Linked DNA regions of Homo sapiens. The protein of the gene in region 1 purifies or fractionates together with the protein of each later gene. This does not show direct contact. Each region holds a gene or a part of one and is shown on either strand. Other genes may lie near its edges.

The links.
Region 2: the proteins of LRCH3 (region 1) and MOB1A purify together in Homo sapiens (co-immunoprecipitation; one large-scale study listed by IntAct). This does not show direct contact.

What each region holds. Positions count from the first base shown.
Region 1 is NC_000003.12:197,829,224-197,833,047, reverse strand, and holds part of LRCH3 (DISP complex protein LRCH3), read right to left. Parts: intron 3,485-3,824; coding exon 3,375-3,484; intron 2,284-3,374; exon of another isoform or gene 2,279-2,283; coding exon 2,185-2,278; exon of another isoform or gene 2,151-2,184; intron 2,012-2,150; exon of another isoform or gene 1,825-2,011; intron 1,774-1,824; exon of another isoform or gene 1,694-1,773; intron 852-1,693; coding exon 731-851; intron 1-730. UniProt on the Homo sapiens protein: As part of the DISP complex, may regulate the association of septins with actin and thereby regulate the actin cytoskeleton.
Region 2 is NC_000002.12:74,161,840-74,165,663, reverse strand, and holds part of MOB1A (MOB kinase activator 1A), read left to right. Parts: intron 1-312; coding exon 313-446; intron 447-3,824. UniProt on the Homo sapiens protein: Activator of LATS1/2 in the Hippo signaling pathway which plays a pivotal role in organ size control and tumor suppression by restricting proliferation and promoting apoptosis.

The DNA.
Region 1 (3,824 bases):
ATGGTAAGGAAAAGGACAGCAAACCATTTAATTGAAATCGTCACTGAGAAATGAAAGCTCTCCTCGGATAAGCAATAGGTTTCTGGAAAATCAAAGTTATTTTCCATTATAACTGGCCCTCAAAATTTAAATATGAAATTAAACATTAAACATTAAATTCAAACCAATTCAAGCAATACAGAATTGAATGCGAAAATCAAGAGTCTGCTTCGGAAGTATAAGCAAGTAGAGAGAGTGCTGCTTGCTAATGAACTACAAATTTTTTAATGTCAGAATAAGGAAAACTGTGATTCAGATGACTTTGAAGAGCATCTGACAATTCCAGGTGAAGAAAAGGTAAACACTGAAAAAAAAAAAAAAAAGGACTAAATTCCTAAAAGAGATCAAATAATGACCACAGCAAGAATCTTAAAAAGGGAGAATGTTACTTCAAAAGGTCGTGATTAAATCCAGATTAACAAAGATCTGCTCCAGGTGTACTGTCTCTAATAAAGTTTCCTCCCAAAATAAAAACAAGGGAGAAATAGTGTATTTTAACTCTGACTGAAACCAGAAATCATAGTTTCATCCCAATGGAAAATAGTATTTTTCAATCATATATGAAAAGAAGTCTTTAAAAGAAGAGTGAAGAAGCTATAGATACACCAACAAAAGGAGTGGGTATGAAAAAGACAACTTTAAAAAGTTAAATGGTTGCAAACACTTTAGCTGTCACCGGAATTATGTTTACCTCCGCCGTTTGTTACTACCAAACTGCCGCGGTTCTCTTGGTACTGGCTTTCTCTTCGTAGTCTTTGTTCTTTAGTAATCTCTGCTACTCGAAGAGGCAGATCTGAAAATTCATCTGTAGGCTTAAAAAAGAAGCAGAAACATTAAAAACAATCATTTTAGAGCCTGGCAGATCATGCCTGTAATCCATGCGCTTTGGGAGACCAAAGCAGGAGGATCACTTGAGGCCAGGAGTAAATTAGCTAGATGTGCTCACACATGCCTGTAATCCTAATACTTGGGATGTTGAGGCGAGACGATCGCTTCAGCCCAGGAGTTCGAGGCTGCAATGAGACAGGATTCCACCACTGCACTCCAGCCTGTGCGACAAAGCGAGATCCTATTTCAAAAAAATAAAAATCTGGTCTGGAGTGGTGGCTGATGCCTATAATCCCAACACTTTGGGAGACCAAGATGGGAATGACAAGCCCAGGAGTTTGAGACTAGCCTGGGCAATATAGGGAGAGCATGTCTCTAAAAAAAAATTTTTTTTAATTAGCCAGGCATGGTGGCATAAGCCTGTAGTCCCAGCTACTCAGGAGGTTTAGGTGGGAGGACTGCTTGAGCCATGGTCGTGCCACTGCACTCCAGCCTGGGTGAAAGAGCAAGACTCTGTCTCAAAAAATATAAAAGATTCATGACTCCATAAATTATATATATATAGATTTAAAATATCTACATATATATCTGTATTGATACAGCCACATTTATGAACCCACCCACCAAGACATACAAACACAAGTAATTCCAAATTTCAAATGGGATGTGGTCTAAAATTAATTTGGTTTCAATTCACAGTAAAACAATGTTATAAATAGTAGGTTATCAGTCTTGCTAACAAAAGTTTACTTAATAACTTAATGCATAGCTAAAATATTACACATTAGTAATTTTTATTTATTTTTTTACTTTTTTTCTTCTGTAGACCTCTGTGGACACAGTAATTTTTAAGAGCAGAAAACATAATATCAATAATTTAAAAACGAGAAAAACGACAGAATTAGCCAGGAAGTTATTCCTCTTGAGCACATGAATACTCTTTACTAAGGTCCTTGTCTCTACCCATCAGCCGAAAGTCCTACTTGTTTTCTCACCATCTAGCACCTCTGCTCGAGATTACCCCCCACCTCAGATTGTAGGCTTCAGTTTCAACTGGCTCAGCTCCTGTTTGCCTTTCTATGATATGAAACTATTTCCATGAGGCAATGAGGAAACAGGCGGAAATCCACGTGACAGAAAGCCGGTAAGGACGCAGAATGCCAATTCTGCTGGAGAGGGTGGGAATCTTGCCTCCACCTTGACTTTTCTGTATTTTATGTAGTGAGAAACTGAATCCAGTTAAGACGCTTTTCATTTTCATCATTCTGTTTTCTCTTAATCAGGTGTTATAACACACGGAACATAAAAAACACTTACTTCATTCCCTGACCATCTCTTATCACCACTGTCCACACTATTGAAGCCTGAATCAAGGGCTCCATAAGGGCGACTTGAGTACAGTTCTTCATGGCTGCCGAAAAGAGACTCTGTTACTGCAAAGTTTGTTATTTTAACAATTAAAATTTGAAATTAAACAGATCAATTTTCTAAAAAACAAGAAATGTGGCAGTCACTTAACTATTAGAACTAAATGGGCTTTAATTTTTTAATATGAAAAATTCCAAATAGAAACAAAGCAAACAGAATAGCATGAGACCTCATGTACTCATTATTATCCAGCTTCAAAACAATCACACCTCTGCAATTCTTGTTCGTCCAATGAGGCGAGTTTACTAGGACTGTGCTTTTAAGCAAAATTTGAGAGGTTCAAGAGAAGGCCTGAGAGGTTCTCTTTTGAGTAAAGTCCATAAACATTACTTCACTTTGACTGAAACATCTATCCTGCTTGTTTAAAGGCCTAAGAATTTAATTCTTGCTACTTAAGACTGCTCCATACTCAGGAGGCTGAGGTGGGAGGAATGCTTGAGCTCAGGAGTTTGAGACCAGGCTGGGCAACATAGTAAGACCTTGTTTCAAAAAAAAGAGATTGTTCCAGATGGTTGGGACTGCCAAGCAGATGACCTTATAAGTCACAGGCTGTGTAGCTGAGGGACTCATAGATTAAAAGATCCTGAAGTGATGTTAATGGTCAACAAATCCAACTCTTGACTCCTTGTAGAAAAAATGAAACTCAAAAAGTAGGAATGACTTGCCTTCGGCTAGTTACCTCAGCAGCAGAGCTAAAGTTAGCGTTCAAGTCACTCAGACCAGTAGTTTTCAACTGGAGGGCCCCAAGGTGACATTTGGAGACTTTGCGAGGGTACTACTGGCATCTATCTAATGGGCAGACACCAAGGATGCTGGTAAATGTCTTACAATGTACAGGACAGCCCATCACAACAAAGAATTATCTGATCTAAAATGTCAACAGTGCCAAGGTTGAGAAACCCTTAGAACTAGACTTTGCCAGATCTAGGTAATCAACTTTACAATACAAGCATTCTGAGAATAACAGTGTTAAAACAGGTTATTTCCCTTTAGTCAAACATTCAGGCAAATTTAAGTATCCATTTTATTTGATTCTCTGTACAAAAAATATGATAGATAAAGGGACAGAATATACTTACCAGGAGCCAAAACCCAACGGTCTCCTATCATAATCCGGCAGATCTGGAGCAATCTTACAAGCTTGTATGTTCAGGTATTTAAATATGTGGACTTTGCCTTTTATACATATCTAAATAAAGTCACACAGATGTAGCCAAATTATTACTCATCTGAAGTATGCTCCTTTTTATCATATCAACATTTTATGTAACATACATTGGGAAAGGGAGGCATTTCTATCAAGTACATACAGTAATATTTAAAAACTAATAAATTATATTATTTGGTTAAGTGTTATTTTAGGTGTTTAACTGGTAAATATGTTTTCATTTTCTAGTCACTAATACATTTCAGTAATATATAAATAAATAACTTTTGATTATACTGTTCAAATACCAAGTAAACTTATCACACTGACTAGTTTGCATAGTCAGAGATTTAAAGCATTTCTCCTCATTAGATTACATGAA
Region 2 (3,824 bases), on another chromosome or scaffold:
CCCAGCCCTCAGCAACCTTCTGCTTTACAGGAATGCAGTTCCTTTGTGTTTCCCAGGGCTGTGTTGTTAATAAAACATCTATCCTGGCATTGCCTCCTGCCACATTATCTCCCTTTTTTCTTCCAGTTATAACTGTCACTTTCTGGATAATTACATAGGGAACTCACAGTAATCTTCAGTAGAACTTAAGGTGATTTATTAAAGTTAGATGTAACTTCTATTGACAAAATGTGAATGAACCTGTTTTAATCACAACTTGCACATTTGTTAATATTTTTGAAAAATTTATCAGTAAAACATTTTTCTCTTCAGATATGAATATCACTGGGCAGATGGTACTAATATTAAAAAGCCAATCAAATGTTCTGCACCAAAATACATTGACTATTTGATGACTTGGGTTCAAGATCAGCTTGATGATGAAACTCTTTTTCCTTCTAAGATTGGTGAGTTAACATTGTCGAAGTATTCTTTCTTTTTTTAAAATTTTATTTTATTAATATAAATAGAGTTGGGGGGGTTTGCTGTGTTGTCCAGGTTGGTCTCAAACTCCTGGCCTCAAGTGATCCTCCTGCCTTGGCCTCCCACAGTGCTGGGATTACAGGTTTGAGCCACCGTATCCAGCCTGTTTCTCTTTTTGAATGATAAATCTGCTCTTTTTAACATTGTTATACTTGTAGAGACTGCCAAATTCTCCTCCAAAAAGTTTGTACCAACATGTACTCCCCCCAGCCCTGTTTGTGTTTGCCAGTGTTTCTTCACCAACACTGGTTATTACTCATTTTTTAATATTTTCTAATTTGGTTAAATTTCTGTTTTAATATGCATTTAAAAAATGTTGATGAGATTGAGCATTTTAGCCTTTTTGTTTGTTTTATTGATCATTGTGTGTTTTCTGTTTATATCTTTCATCTATTTCTGTGTAAAGGATATTAGCGCTTTGTCGTATGTGTTGTATATCTTTTTCCCCGGGTTACCTTTTGTCTCATTTTGTTCATGGAGTATTTTTGCTGTACACAACCTTACTATTTTGTCCTATTATATCTTTTATGACTTGATTTTAATATAACAATTAGAAAGCTTTTCCCTGCTTCAAGATTATAAAAATATTTATTCATGTTTTCTTTTTTTATTTTTTTATTTTTTGAGACAGAGTCTCACTCTGTTGCCCAGGCTGGAGTGCAGCGGCACAATCTTGGCTCACTGCAATCTCCACCTCCCAGGTTCAAGCAGTTCTCATGCCTCAGTCCCTGGGTAGCTGGGACTACAGGCACATGCCACCATGCCCAGCTAATTTTTGTATTTTTAGTAGAGATGGGGTTTCACCATGTTGGCCAGGCTGGTCTTGAACGCCTGACCTCAAGTGATCTACCTGCCTTGGCATCCCAAAGTGTTGGGATTACAGGCATGAGCCACCACGCCTGGCTGGGAAGTTTTTTTTCCCTGAATGCTACATTAATTTTTTTCCAAATGGAAATACTAGTCAGTTTGTCCCATTACCATTTATTAAACACATTTGCCTTTTCTCCCCTGATTATCTTATGTGCACAACAAATTGCCATATATTTTTGCATGTTTTAGTCTCTTTATCTGTTCCTATAGAAATTCCACACGTTGGTGACTGTGGCTCTGCATCTGTTAGCATCTTGTAAGGCTGGTCTCCCTTCCTCGCTCTTCTTTTTCAGAATATTCACAGCTATTCTGGGATATTTGTTTTTCCAAAGAACTTAGAAACATTTTGTCAAGGTGAAAAAAAAATTAGATTTTAATTATGACTATATTTAATTTTTATAGATAGGGATTCTTTTTACTGAATCTTCCTAGCCAAGAACAAGATATTGTTCATTTATTCATGTCTTTAGCTTTATTTTCTCTTGTAAAATTCTGTAGTTTATGTCAGTTGTTCAAGTTTCTTAATTTTATTCTAGGGATTTTATGTCTTTTATTGATAATCTGGTTTCCAGCTGGTTATTTAGTATATAGGAAAGCTGTTGGTTTTTATTGTAATTTATTTTTAATTTTTTTTGAGACAGGGTCTCACTCTGTTCCCCAGCCTGGAGTGCAGGGGTGTGATCACAGCTCTCTGCAGCCTTGATCTCCTGGGCTCCAGTGATCCTCCCACCTTAGCTTCCCAAGTAACTGGGACTGTAGGCACGCACCACTACACCTGGCTAATTTTGTTTATTTTTTGTAGAGATGAGGTCTCATTATGTTGCCCAGGCTGGTCTCGAACTCCAGGGCTCAAGCATCCCTCCTTCCTTGGCCTTCCAAAAGTGTTGGAATTACAGGTGTCAGCCACCAGGACTGGCCAGCTGTTGATTTTTATTTAAATTTTATAATTAACCATCAGACTCTTTTTCTGTTAGTTTTTGGTTGGTTCTCTTGAATTTTTAAAGTATACAACTGTGTCATATTAAGATAGTGTTCATTTTGTCTCTTCCTTTCTGATAATGTATTCTTGTTTTTACGCTTGCTTATCTGATTGCACTGAGTGGTATTTCAAGCGCAATGCCGAGTAATGGTGATGATGGCAGACATCCGTTTCTTGCCTTCTTACTATTATGCAAGTACTTCTAGTATTTCTGCAGTAAGCCGAAATCTTGGCTTTTGGTTAGAGGTGTATGGATTTTTAAAAAATTATATTAATGAAAAATATCCACCATTTATATTACAAAAATTGTTCTTAACGAGGAATGGCTATAGAGTTTATCAGATGCTTTTCCAGTATCTGTTGCCTATGACCATAAGGTTTTCTCCATTTTTTAATAAAAATATTCTGCTGGAAGAGTATTTGTTAATATTTTGATTAAGAGTTTGGCATCAGTATTCATGGATGAAATCACTCCTTGTCATTTTCAACTTAAGAGTATTTTATGAGCAACATATTTTTGAATTCCTTTTTGCAGTCTTATAGAGGCTTTTCAGGACAACAGTTTTTTTCCAAGTTGTTAACATTTGGTCTGTTTGTTGTTGGTCAGTTTTTCCATTCTGCTATTAAACCTTTTATTTCCTTTCTCATATATCTTTATTTTATATTGACTGTGCTTGAATATATCTGTTAAATTCAGCTTGGAAAGTGTTTAGATTTAAACAAATTACTTATTTCTTTACTCATTAAAGTCTCTGCTTATGGAAGGTAAATAATTCTTTTGATTTATCCTCTTTTCTCTCTTTTTTGTTTGGAGACAGGGTCTCACTCTGTCACCCAGGCTGGAGGGCAGTGGCACAGTCTCGGCTCTACTGCAACCTCCACTTCCTGGGTTGAAGCGATTCTCGTGCCTCAGCCTCCAAGTAGCTGGGACTACAGGCGCCCACCACCACACCTGGCTAGTTTTTGTAGTTTTAGGTAGAGACAGGGTTTCACCATGTTGGCCAGGCTGGTCTCGAACTCCTGACCTCAAGTGATTCACCCACTTTGGCCTCCCAAAGTGCTGGAATTACAGGCATGAGCCACCATGCCTGGCTTTTTTCTCACTTTCTTGTTCTTAAATAATTCATTCTGATCCACCACCTCTTAATCCCACTCCCCTGCCATTAGGCTATTATCTGCATCTTACTTTTGCCAGTTATTTAGTCTCAGACAGAACTGTTTATCATTAATTTTTTACTAATATATGCACATTATTAATATCCTTTTATTAGAAAGATGCCCATTTATACATTCTGATAAAAAAAGATGTTTGATTTTGAAATCTACTTTTTTTTTTGAGACAGACTCTCACTCTGTTGCCCAGGCTAGAGTGCAGTGGTGCAGTTACAGCTCACTGTGGACTTGACCTCCCAGGCGCAAGTGGTCCTTCTACATCAGCCACTTGAGTAGCTGA